Linked DNA regions of Homo sapiens: all the other regions are reported to be linked to region 3. The links are microRNA targets in miRTarBase. Many come from high-throughput screens and were not tested one by one. Region 3 holds a microRNA gene; each other region holds the end of a gene's coding sequence.
Evidence for each region. Region 3 holds the annotated microRNA hsa-miR-4778-3p (UCUUCUUCCUUUGCAGAGUUGA, at 2,889-2,910, opposite strand). A microRNA usually pairs through its seed, bases 2 to 8, with sites in the 3' UTR of a target mRNA and lowers its output. Matches are read on the target gene's strand: a 7mer-m8 pairs with bases 2 to 8, a 7mer-A1 pairs with bases 2 to 7 and ends in A, and an 8mer does both.

Region 1 (4,097 bases), not on the chromosome of region 3:
GGGGAAGCAACTGGTTTCTCCCGGTACCTCCTTCCAGACTCCCTGGCTAGATCCCTTCCGGGTTTCACAACCCAACTGTCCAGCCTGTGTGCTCACATGCCCACTGACACAGTCACACACACATTCACTCACACACTCATGTTCCAGACACACTCACATGCGCACACACATTGAGTGACAAACACACATTGAATGACGCATTCATGCCTGCTCATTGACACACCCACATTTGCAGTCAGCGCACGCACGCACAATGACTCACAAACTCACACACACACTGACACACACTGACACACTCACAGTGTCACACACATTCAGCGACATGCATGCTCACCTTCAATGGCACAGCCTCATTCCCCCACACCCTCCCACTCACACACGCTCAGTGATGCAGTCACATTCTGTCACTTGGATTCACACACATTCTCAGAAACTCATGCACATGCTCACACTGACACACACACGCACACGCTCAAACACACCCGCTCACTCACACTCACACCTGCTTGGGAATCACGGCACACACAGGTCCACTCTGAACAGGGAAAACCAAGGAGCCCTGACAGGCCCTGGCAAGGTCAGCCAAGCTCTATGCCCTCTCCTCTTGCCCTGTCCCCAAAATCTGGAGGGGCCCTTGGAAAGTGAGCAGTTGACTTGGCCCTGCTGAGACACAAGGGACGGACATGCTGGGGTTGTGCCCAGCCTGAAGAAGGCAGGGAGAACAGAGCACAGTGGGGGCCCCAGGCATGCCTGCAGGGCACCCCGATGGGACACACTACAAGGGTCCCTGAGACACCGGTTAAGCACCTTCAGGCCGGGGAGGCTGCAGGCCCAGCCCCAGAGACCTGCCGCCCCCTGCCCCTCCCCGACAGCCCCGCAAAACTACCCCTCCCATGCCTGCACTGGCCTGTGTATGCCGAGTGTCTCCCAGGGCCCCTGCCGCCCTGCAGACCTGCTGACTGCAGCTCCGCTCAAGCAGACAGGTCGCCTAGATCCAGGATTCCTCAGCCCAGGTGGGCAGCCACCCATTCCCAGCATTGGCTCTGAGGCTGCTTTGGGGGAGCCTGGCTATCATCTGAGCCATGGGGATGGCCGGAGGCTCTGTGCTCCAGAACAGCCGGAGGAAGTGTGTGGACACAGACTGAGTGAGCCCCGGGAGACCCTCGCCACGTCCAAGTCAATGATCCCGTCCCCTCCCCACACATGTGCAGGGAGGGGCCTATCACTTGTCCCAGTTCTGTCGCCCACAGACTCTGGGCTAGTTAAATGGCTGATCGAGGACTACCCTCCATTTGTGGCGAGCTCCCTGGCCTGTTGGGAGAGAGAGCCAGTCCCAGGAGGGCTCAGGAGGGCGGGTTCCAGGATCCTCAGGCCCCCACCAAGAACTGCCCCTCTGGCCACAGTGCTGAAGGAGGGGTGTCTGGATTAGCAGCGCCGTCCATCCTGAGGGAGCCCTCCTCAGGCAGCATCCAGGGCTCAGAGGGCCTCGGGGATGCAGGACAGAAAGGGGTCACTCCCCAGGGCCATCTAGGCTTCCTGCTCATGGCCCACTGCCTGCTCCCAGGACACAGGAGTAGAGCGCCTCCCAGTACACTGGGAAGGGAGCAGGACAGGACCCAGGATGAAGTGCAGCTCCCCCGCCCTTCCTCTCCCCCTCCCCAAGACATGAGCACTTGGGATCCCTTTCTCGCCCACACTCTGTCCCCTTGGCCATCACACACACACTGTCCCCAAACATCCCTCAGTGGCTAGGCCAAGGCTGGCCACCTGCGGGCTGATCTGGGAGGATGGGCACACACCAGCCCCTACCCCACCCCGAGTCCTGCACACAGCTCTTCACAGGGCCTCTGACTGCCTGTCCAGGCCCTCCTGGGGCTCTTCTCTGACCTCGGTTGCTGGCCTTGGTTGCACACGTGGCCTCTCTGACCCTTCCGGAAGCCTTGAGCCACACCCCTACAGTGCTGCCAGGGATCAGGGGCCTGGGACCCACCTGCTGCCCCTTGCCCAGCCTTCAATGTCCAAGTCACTTATTCCTGAGGACACCTGGAGTGCCTTTGGTACCCAGCCAGTCACTGCTCATGACCACCAGCATCCTGTTGCCAGGCTCCATGCAGCCCAAGGCACCCCACAGGCCCTCATAGACCCTGCCCCACACACACCTCGATGTCAGCCTGGCCACTGTGGCCCCATCCCCAGCAGACCACCTCCCACCCCAGTTTCACACAGCAGAGGCAAGACACCACTGGAACACTGAACAAAATTTACTGAAGAGAAACATGAACTGAAACTGCTGAAGAAAAGGGAATCTAACACAGAGAGAAACTGCAAACAGCCACTACAGGTCACAAGTCCCCGGCCCCTCCCTCAGTGTGGCCCCCCCCACCACATCCCTCCTTCCATAGGGCCCCAGGATCCACCTCTTGCCAGGATGGTGGGCTCTGGCAATGTGTACTCGCTTCAGGGAACCCCCTCCTGAGCCCACCCGCTGGGGCAGGGCCCTGCCCTATAGACTGCACAGGACAGTCACAGGATGCTGGAAAACATAGCAGGGAACACCCCACCAAGTTGAGGAAACTGAGTCACGAGTAACAGCAGGGGTGGAACGCCAAAGCACAAAGCTTCCTGGGGAGCCTCAGGCAGCCCTGCTCCTTCCCGTGTCTGGTTGGTCCTCCTGCAGTCGAGGTCACAGTCACAAGGTGAGCGTCTGCCATGCCTCCTTCCCACCGTCTCCTGGAACTGCGCTGGGGTACTCTGGAAAGGAGCTGCTCAGATAAAAACACACACATCCCCAAGAGAACAAGCAGCCACTGGCCGAGATCTACACCGGCAAAGCAGAGGTGGAGTTCTTGACACGGAACAGCAGTGAGCAGAGCCCGGGCCTGATGATGACGCAAACCAAAAACAACTACCCACCCCCAACACATCCTCTCTTCTCTTCTTACACTTCTTCCTCCTCCTTCCCCTCTTCCTCCTCCCCCTCTTCCTCCTTCTCCTCCCCCTCTTCCTCCTGCTCCTCCTTATTCTCCTCTTCCTCCTCCCGATCATCCTCTTCTTAATTCTCCTCCTCTTTCTCTTCCTCACTGGTGCAGGGGCTTATGAATGCTGCCTTCCTGGGGCTCCCCTCATGCAGTGTAGATGATCCTAAAGACAGGCTGGACCCTGTGGCCTCCCCTGCGGGGCTTCACTTCTGCCCCACAGCTCTTCCTCAGCAGCCCTGGCTCCTTCTGGCAGAGGCAGGCCCCAGGCAGGCTCCTCCAGGTCCCACGTGGCCTGGGTGCCAGTGGGCATGCTCAGCTCAAAGTCCACAGGGTAGATATTTGGGGGTGTCCAGAGGACCAGGCCAGAGCCCCCAGCCACACCTTCTTCAGCCCCTGCTTCGCTGGGGTCCCCATCTGAAGCCCAGGCACCCCATGTGCTAAGTGTAGTGGTTCCCCGCTTGTGTCTCCTGTACCTGTTAGGGGCTATGGGCCCGGCCCCCACTGAACCAGATGCTATTTGGTCTTGGTTGGTGAAGTCCCTTCCAGCTGGTGGAAAGTAAGGGGGCTTGATCTCGACCTGGCTTCCCTGTCCCTCTGCCCCAGTCAAGTTCCCTGTTAGTGTAAGCTGCCCCTTCCCCTTGTTCAAATGTCCCTGCTGCCTGCCAGGGGAAGGAGTGCTTCGGTCTTCTGAGCCTATGTTTCCCAGGGCTTGGGATGGCTCATGGCCCCAGCCCCTGCCTCGTTTCCCAACTCCTCTCCTGCAGCCTGTGGCCCCTCCCTGCCTGGAGTCTGGTTTTCAGCCTTGGGATACGTGGCCTGGCCATGGTCTTCTCCCCTAGTGCTTTCACTGCCTAACAGCCGCCTGCGTTTCACTAATGGGGGTAAGCCTCCCTGTATGGTCTGGGGGCTGCTGTCGCTAAAAGACCTTGCCTGCACGGTGGCCTGAGGTGCAGAGACACTGGCTTCTGCTCTTGCCTGTCTACCGGAGGCCCCCCGGCCTCTCCCTGATGGCTTCTCCTTATTCTTCATCACTGCCTCAGTGTTCTCCCACTCTTCTTCATCTCGAATGAGCTTCATTAACTCCAGAAAATTGGGAGGACACCCTCGCTGATCCAAGAG
Region 2 (4,083 bases), not on the chromosome of region 3:
CTGTTGACATTCCCAGCAGCCGCCCCTGAGGTCGATGTTTGTTCTGTTTTTCTTTTTCTTTTTTGAGACGGAGTCTCGCTGTGTTGCCAGGCTGGAGTGCAGTGGTGTGATCTCTGCTCACTGCAACCTCCGCCTGCCAGTTTCAAGTGATTCTCTGCCTCAGCCTTCTGAGTAGCTGGGACTACAGGTGCACGCCACCACGCCCAGCTAACTTTTTGTATTTTAGTAGAGACAGGGTTTCGCCATGTCGGCCAGGGTGGTCTTGATCTCCTGACCTCATGATCCACCCGCCTCAGCCTCCCAAAGTGCTGGGATTACAGGTATGAGCCACCGCACCGGGCCTGTTCTATTTTTCTAGTTAAGGGAACTGAAGCTCAGAGAGGTGTCACCAGCAGGTGTTCATTCCCATGCCAGCCTTGCCCCCCGGCTTTTCCCAGGCAGGCTCCTGCGTGCCCACTGGCTCCAGCCTGGTCCTCTGTCTCTTGGCTGCTTCACTCCTGCTCTTTGTCCCGACTCTGGCCCTGCTTACAGGGGCCACTACCTGCTGGTGCCTCCATAACAAGCGTCTGGCGTTGAGACCCCTGGCATGGCAGGGGCTTTGGGGTCTGGTTTCCACAAGGCTTAGCCATGGCAGAACCTCGTTTTATTTTAACTCTTTGCCCCTACAAACAAACAGCAGTACTTGCCAGAACCATTCTTGGGATTCAGGAGCTCGGGCGACTGCCTTGGCCTCTGGCCGCACCCAGGAGGGTGGGGTTGGATCTGTGTAGTTGCCAGGCCCACACCTGCCAGCAGGGGGCTGACTGGATCCATGCTTTACTGTGTTTAATGGGGGTAACAGGGGTCCCTACAGCCCTCCCAGCTAAACATTTGGAACAAAACACCAGCCCTTTTGTAGTGGATGCAGAATAAAATTGTTAATCCAATCACCTCCAATGGCAAGGCCTGACCCTTCTGTGTGTGCAGCAGGTGTTTGTGGCGTCTTTCCCAGGAGTAAGGCCTGTGATGGTGGGATGGGGATGGCCAGACCCCTGACTCCACAGTCAGGACTGTTCTGGCTTATCAGCCACCCTGGCACAGAGAAGGTCACAGGGATGAATATGCCACGCACAGGGGCAGCACAGGTTTAGTTGGGTTGGGGGAAGTACCATGGAGCCGGCAGTGTGAGGGCTGTGCTGTGAGGGCCCAGTAGGATTTGAATGTACAGATGGGCAGAGGGCATGTGCCCAGCCCAGGCTCTGGACTCTTGCCACAGTGTGTGGCAACTTCCAGGGGCTTGTTTATTGGTGCTGCGTGGGGATGTCTCCTTTGTTTAGATGGCGTCAGAGGCAGAGCAGGTGTCAGTGAAGGGGAGTGAGCACAGGACCAGCTGTCTCCCAAGAGGCTGAGGAGCTGGCCCAAGGCTTTGGGGGCTGGATTTGTGCCTCACCCAGCTCCTGCCTTGTGGCTGTCTCCACAGTCCTCCCTACTGACTGGCTTTCTGCCTTTGTTTTCTCAGCCATGATGAGGAGCAGCCCTGGGCCAGGTGCCACGGTCAGTATGAGAGGCTCCAGGATCAGGCTAGAGAACCACGCGAACCAGGTCTGGGGAGCTATCTGTGGGAAAGGTCAGGGCCTGTTTTTCTCCTAAGCTGCTGGCTGTTCAAGGGACCTACCTCCTTGTCCCTTCCCAGTCACAGGTCCAAGGGGCAAATAGCGAATTCCCATGGAGGAGAATCACTGCACTCCAAGTGGACGTGGCTGGTAGGTAAGTGTAACTTTTTCTGCTGCTGTTCAGTGGTACTGAGAGACAGGAAAGCCCCACTGCTCCCGCCCCACCCTTTGTGATGGGTTATCAATGACAGCTAATAAAGCCACCTCACTGCTTCCTCATGCCAGCCCTTGACCCACAAACACTGGAGGAGACCTGCCTCAGGTCCCATCCCCCACCACAACTGGGCTTTAGCTGAAAGTTGTGGGTTTCTGAACTTCAGGAATAAGTCTTTGGGGACATTCGTTTGGCCAAGAATTCATTCCCTCATCTGCCCAAGAGCAGCTGCCCTAGGTGATAGGCAAAAGCCACATGAAAGCCACATCCCACAGCTCTTGGGCGTCATTTATTTTTTGCATAGGCATAAATTAGGATCTGGAGATAAAAAACTTAAGAACCAATAGTGCAGCATTTGTGACAGGAGAGCGCAAAACAAACCCTGGCTGCCTCGGGATGGAGCGGGGCGGCCTCACCACCACTGCATCCAGCCTCATGCTCCAGAGCGGATTTGAGGCTCAGTGCTGCAGTGAAGGCCTGCCCGCCTTCTTGCCCCTTCCCCGCAGCCAGACCACCAGACACAGCCGGAACCAGTGCCCCAGGCCCCTCTCCACGGCCAGGAACAAGAAACTGAGTATCACCCAGTGCCCCACAGAACGGGGCTAGGAATCAAGCCCTTAGCTTTTCAGTTAGAAAAACAGACCTTGAAAAATATATACATAATACAGTGGGGCCTGCTGGCTCTAAAAGTCCCCTCCTCCCCCTTCCCTATCCAGGGTAACTTCTGCCAGCCTCTTCCCCCAGCCCCCACCAACTGCCCCACAGAGAACAAACCAGAAGGGCGACTACCTGAACAAGAGCTGCAAGAGCCCAAGGGGGCAGCCTGAGCGGACGACCCCTACATCAGGGCCTGGTTAGATGTGGGGGCCGGTGCAGACAGACCTCGCACCCCGATACCCTGAACGTCCCCACAAGAGCCCAGGAGTTCCATGCTCCCCACTCTTCTTGCTATAACCCCAGATGCTAATGGCCCCAAAGACAGGTCTAGGTCTCCATACCCTGGGAGAATGTGGAAAGCAAGCTCAGGGGCACTGGCAGGCCCTAGCAGGAACAGGGAGCAGGGTGGGCCCCAACCTAGCATCAGGAGAGAGAAAAGCAACTACCGTCCCCAGCAGAGGGGAAGCCTACAGGGTTGGCCCTGGGCCCCTTAGAAGATCACAGCAGCCAGTCCCCTTTAGGGCACAAGAAGCCCCATGGCCCACTGCTACCCTCCCCGGGACAAATACACACTTTTGTCGAAGGCCCTCAGGGACCCTGTGGTTCATGCTTCCCTAGGTGGAGGGCACTAACCTTGTAGGAGAGCTGGGCAGCTCTCCATCAAGTGCTTCCTGCCTGGGGAAGTCCCATCCTGCTCTGGAGCTAAGCACCCTCCTCCCAGAGGGCCTCGCTTCCTTGCCCAGGGGCAGAGGCAGCTCACCTAGCCCAGGCCGTAGCTTGCCCCTCCCACAGCCCTGGCACCTGCTTCATCAGCTCCCAGGCACCAGCCCCTGACCCCAGCCAAGACCAGTCAGGTCCTACCTCTCCCAACTTCCCAGTCCCCCATGATATGCTACATATATACACACTCCCAGGATGGGAAGCAGACGCCACGGGCACAGAGGGAAGGAAGAAGGGAGCTGCTGGAGCCTGCTAACCGCCTCGAGCCACCTGCTGCTCAGGAGACCCTGCCCGTCCTTTTCATCTGCATGGGGCCACAGGCTCCTCTCTTGTGCTCCTAGAAGTCAGAGCGCCGAGCAAGCGTGTGGGGGAAGCGGCGGGGTGCTGTTCACCCACTCCCAGATGGCTGGCAGCAGGCACCAGTAAGCAGGGCTAGTGGGCGGGCTCCCCATGCACTCTGAAGCGGTAGATGCAGGTGTACTCGGGGTGGCCCCAGTTAGTCAGGATCCGCAGCTCCACCACCTGGTACGTGGCCATCGTAGGGGCCTGGGTAGAGAAGAAAGGGATTAAGAGCATCAGAGACCTGTGAGGCCTCACTGACAGAGAAGGTGGGAAGGGGAGACAGCCTCGCCTAGGGCCAGATGGCTCCCCTGCTCCTTCCCTGGGGCTCTGAAGAGAACCAGGCTTCAAAAGCTCCTATCTTTAGCCTCCTGAGCAGTGTTTCCAGCCAGTGGGTTAAGGGGCCACCTGTAGCACACTTCATCTGAAACCGGAATGAATTCATCCACAATCGTTTTTTTATTGTGATCAACAGATAGAACCACCTTCATAGAGGGCTTCATAGATGCTGATGTGGGGCACACTTGATTCTTTTTCTCCAGTGCCCATCGGGCCTCTGTC
Region 3 (4,097 bases):
AAATCACACAAAGTTTTACTTGGAAAACTCCAAAACAAGAGGTCATCTAATTCAAGGTTCTCATCCTAGGGTTCATTGACATCCCAGGATGGGCTTGGGTGAAGTTGGACATAACACATTTGAATGTGAATTTTGCTAAACAGAAGTTCAGTACCTTTCAAATGTTTTTGTATGGCTATATGCCCCCATCCTTAAGAGTTAGAAAGCACCAATGCTGACCAAACTTTTTACTTTCTAGACAAAGAAAGATTATCCCAATAAACTATGACTTATGCAAAGCATAGGGCCAGTGTATTAGTCTGTTTTCACATTGCTGATAAAGACATAACCAATTCACAAAAGAAAGAGGTTTATTGGACTTACAGCCCCCACGGCTGGGGAGGCCTCACAATCGTGGCAGAAGGCAAGGAGGTGCAAGTCACATCTTACGTGGATGGCAGCAGGCAAAGAGAGAGCTTATGCAGAGAAATTCTGGTTTTTAAAATCATCAGATCTCGTGAGACCTATTCACTATCACGAGAACAACATGGGAAAGACCTGCCCCCATGATTCAATCATCTTCCACTGGGTCCCTCCCACAACACGTGGAAATTATGGAACTACAATATGAGATTTGGGTGGGGACACAGAGACAAGCCACATCAAGCTAGTTAGAGCCAGAACTGAGACATTAATCAAGGATGCCTAATTTTTCTAAGTTACTTTCAGACCAATCTCATTTATTGGTAGTACTTTCTTCCCTGCTTGCATGAGGGTGGGAGACAAATCTTGGCTCTCCAAACAGCCAGACCCCAGACTCTGTGTTTGACCTTGTGCAATAGATTTGTTTCTTTAAGCCTGGATTGGCTGGGCACGGTGGCTCATGCCTGTAATCCCAGCACTTTGGGAGGCCAAGGTGAGTGGATCACCTGAGGTCAGGAGTTCAAGACCAGCCTGCCCAACATGGCAAAACCCCATCTCTACTAAAAATACAAAAAATTAGCCTGGTATGGTGGTGCATGCCTGTAACCCCAGCTACTCAGGAGGCTGAGGCAGGAGAATTGCTTGAACCCAGGAGGCGGAGGTTGCAGTGAGCCGAGATCACACCACTGCACTCCAGCCTGGGTGACAAGAGCCAAACTCTGTCCAAAAATAACAATAATAAAAAAAAGCCTGAGTTTACAAATCTATAGAAGGAAATTTAAAATATGATCTCTGTTCCCATCAAATTTCTTTGTTTCAAGTGATATAAACTAACTATGGCTGATTAGACAGTAGGGAATTTATTGCAAGGGTATGAGAAAGCACGTAGAAAAGGCTTCTTTGTGGCTCAACTCCACAACACTGTATTTTATGTTTATGAAAACATTGGGAAGGCTGAACTACCAGACTCAGAAATGGCATAAAGAAGGGGTGCAGGTAACAGCCTGAGCCACAGCCAAAATGATGCCACAATGTGAGTGAGGTGGAGACTCTATCACTCCACCTGACTGTTGCTGACACTGAATACTGAGGCTTATCTGTTATTGCTACTGAACTTAAACATTTAATGTCACCACCACAGCCTCTGTAAACCCTGGAAGCTGATGTTGAAGCCACCTCTGCAACCATTAAAGGAGAAATAAATTCTCTGCTTTCCTGATTTTTGCATCTCTCAATGCAAATTTAAAGTCTGAGGCAGGTACCTCTGTTTGGCTGAGTATAGGTGATGTGTTCATACCTTAGCTGCAGGGTAGCCTGGGACAAGAATTTTTTTGACTTCCATACTGGGAAATTCAAGCAAAATTCATATTATTAGAAATTTCTCAAATGTAAGAAATGGGTTCAAAGGCTGAACTCAGCCATTCAAAGGCTGAAACCTCTCAAATAAAACTAACATGGATCTACTACTCCATCCCATTAGGTTGGCGTGAGGATTAAATAGATAATAATAGATAGAGTGTCTAGGAAATAATAAGGACTCAATGTTCATTTTCATCATCATTGTATTACTCTTGTAAGAGTCAGCTTATCTTCATGGTATGCCAGTTGTCTGTAATACCTATAGCTGAGAAAAGTGAAATAAGGATTTGAAGTGTTTTTATTTCACATAATGGGAAAATGTAGGGAAAATTAAGGAAATGAGGAGTAATGCCAGAAGAGATGAAAGTGAAAAGACTGACAGACAGAGTCAGATAAGGAAAGTAAATGGGCATTAGATTAGTTGCAGAATTACTGACTCCTGTGAAGGAATGGATTGTCCAGGGAAAAGAAGCTAGCCAAGAAATGGAGACCTGGGAATGAGATCCATGCTACTCCGAGCTCTAATCCTAGGGCTGAATCTCCCAATCTAGGGTGCCCATACAAAAAGAACACAATAATTAAAGACAAATAAGGAATAGAAATATTCTGGGTCTTTTTGGAATTAAAACCTTATAGCTTGCATCTGTTTGGTAGTGGTGATTGTAGTGGTGGTCCTAGTGGTGTGTGTATGTGTGCAAGTTCATTTTGTTTTGTTTTAAACTTACAGAACAGAATTGAGATTTGGATTTTAAGGGAATTTTGATATTTCATTTTGACAGCTCTCCTTCTGACACTTCATTCTTCTTCTTCTCGCACCCAAACACACACAGGCATACAAACCTCTTTGGGATTGGCTGCAGAAACAGTGCCTCCCAGAGTATTCCCATTCATCTCATTTGTGCTTAGCTGACCTCTAATACCTAGAGGAGAACTGTAGTGCAAACATCAAGAAAATAATAATGTAATTCTAGAATAATATCCCTAAGACTTATAAATATGAAGCAAATATAAGAACCCTTTTTTCAGTGGACAAGAATTGCTTGTCTATTCATCACATCCTTTTTTTGTTTGGAAAGTGTCTCCTCTCTCTCTCCATGTTGACTCTAGAAGGACTATAAGCCACATATTCAACTCTGCAAAGGAAGAAGAGGGCTTCACTTCTTCTTACCTCTTCTTCCTTTACAGAATTGGACATGTGATTTACACTGACCAGTCAGTTTACCTTATATGTCTTAATGCCTGTGATTAGTCCAGAGAGAAATACATGAAGTAGGGATAACCAATCCAAACACTGCTTTGGAGTTTGATTGTTGGGATAAAGTCTCTCTTGAGTTCACAAAGCTTCAGGATCATGTATTCATGTGGCAAGCACCAGGATGCTCTCACCACCTTATGGAAAAAGCTTGCCTGAAGCTGAACAAAGGCAAATGGAGCTCAACATACCTCTGAACAATCTGAGCCAACAACTTCTCCTTTTGACTTCAGCTACTTTAAGTTGAGGTTTTATTACTTGGTGTATTAGTCTGTTCTCACACTGCTATAAAGAACTACCTGAGTATGGGTAGTTTATAAAGAGGGATTTAATTGACTCACAGCTCCACAGGTTGTATAGAAGACATGGCAGGGGAGGCCTCAGGAAACTTACAATCATGGAGGCAGGGCAAATGGGAAGCAAGCACATCTTTACATGGCAGCAGGAGAGAGAGAGCAAAGAGGGAAGTGCTACACACTCTTAAACAACCAGATCTCATGATAACTCACTATCACAAGAACAGCATGGGAAAAATCTACCCCCATAATCCAATCACCTCTTACCGGGTCCCTCCCCCAACACTGGGGGTTACAATTCAACATGAGATTTGGGTGGGGACACAGAGCCAAATCATATCACTTGGAAGTTGAGAATTTTATATCTCATACTTCCCCGCCCCAAGAAAAAAATAATTTCATACCCCCTTAGTGATATGAGTTGAACTTTTAGTATGACTTAAGAAAACATACTGACAAAAATGGCCAATAATCTCAGTAAAGCTTTTAAAATATTATTTACTCAGACTCTAGAGAATGCTTGCACAACAAGTAGATTAATAGACACCTAACAATAACTTATTGGTCCCCCCATCCAAGGTTAAAAATCATTGTTTATAAGTGCTTATGCTTTCAAAACAATACTGAGAAAAATGCACTTCTGAGTGTTATCATATTTTGAAGACTATAAACCCTTCATCCACTTTTGAAAAGAGGATGATATTGAAAAAGCCATTTGATAAGCTTTTATATCCAAAGAAACAAAGAAGCAGTTTGCTTCGAAGACTCCAGGGACACAAGGCCACCAC

Region 1: miRTarBase lists PNMA5 as a target of hsa-miR-4778-3p. Seed matches in the 3' UTR shown: 7mer-m8 at 3,360-3,366, 7mer-A1 at 3,048-3,054, 7mer-m8 at 2,944-2,950 and 7mer-A1 at 2,934-2,940.
Region 2: miRTarBase lists SUN2 as a target of hsa-miR-4778-3p. Seed matches in the 3' UTR shown: 7mer-A1 at 2,747-2,753.

Annotation. Positions count from the first base shown.
Region 1 is chrX:152,986,581-152,990,677 of GRCh38, forward strand. PNMA5 (PNMA family member 5) reads right to left here. Exons shown (of 4, transcript NM_001184924.2): 4 at 2,244-4,097. The coding sequence ends at 3,672. Among named protein-coding and RNA genes, the nearest start is that of PNMA5, 5.5 kb to the right of the region's middle. RefSeq lists an enhancer at 3,273-3,772.
Region 2 is chr22:38,732,652-38,736,734 of GRCh38, forward strand. It overlaps SUN2 (Sad1 and UNC84 domain containing 2), which reads right to left. Exons shown (of 18, transcript NM_015374.3): 18 at 2,083-3,729. The coding sequence ends at 3,616. It overlaps GTPBP1 (GTP binding protein 1), which reads left to right. Exons shown (of 12, transcript NM_004286.5): 12 at 1-936. Among named protein-coding and RNA genes, the nearest start is that of SUN2, 21 kb to the right of the region's middle.
Region 3 is chr2:66,355,369-66,359,465 of GRCh38, forward strand. MIR4778 (microRNA 4778) reads right to left here and starts at 2,960; the gene lies at 2,881-2,960.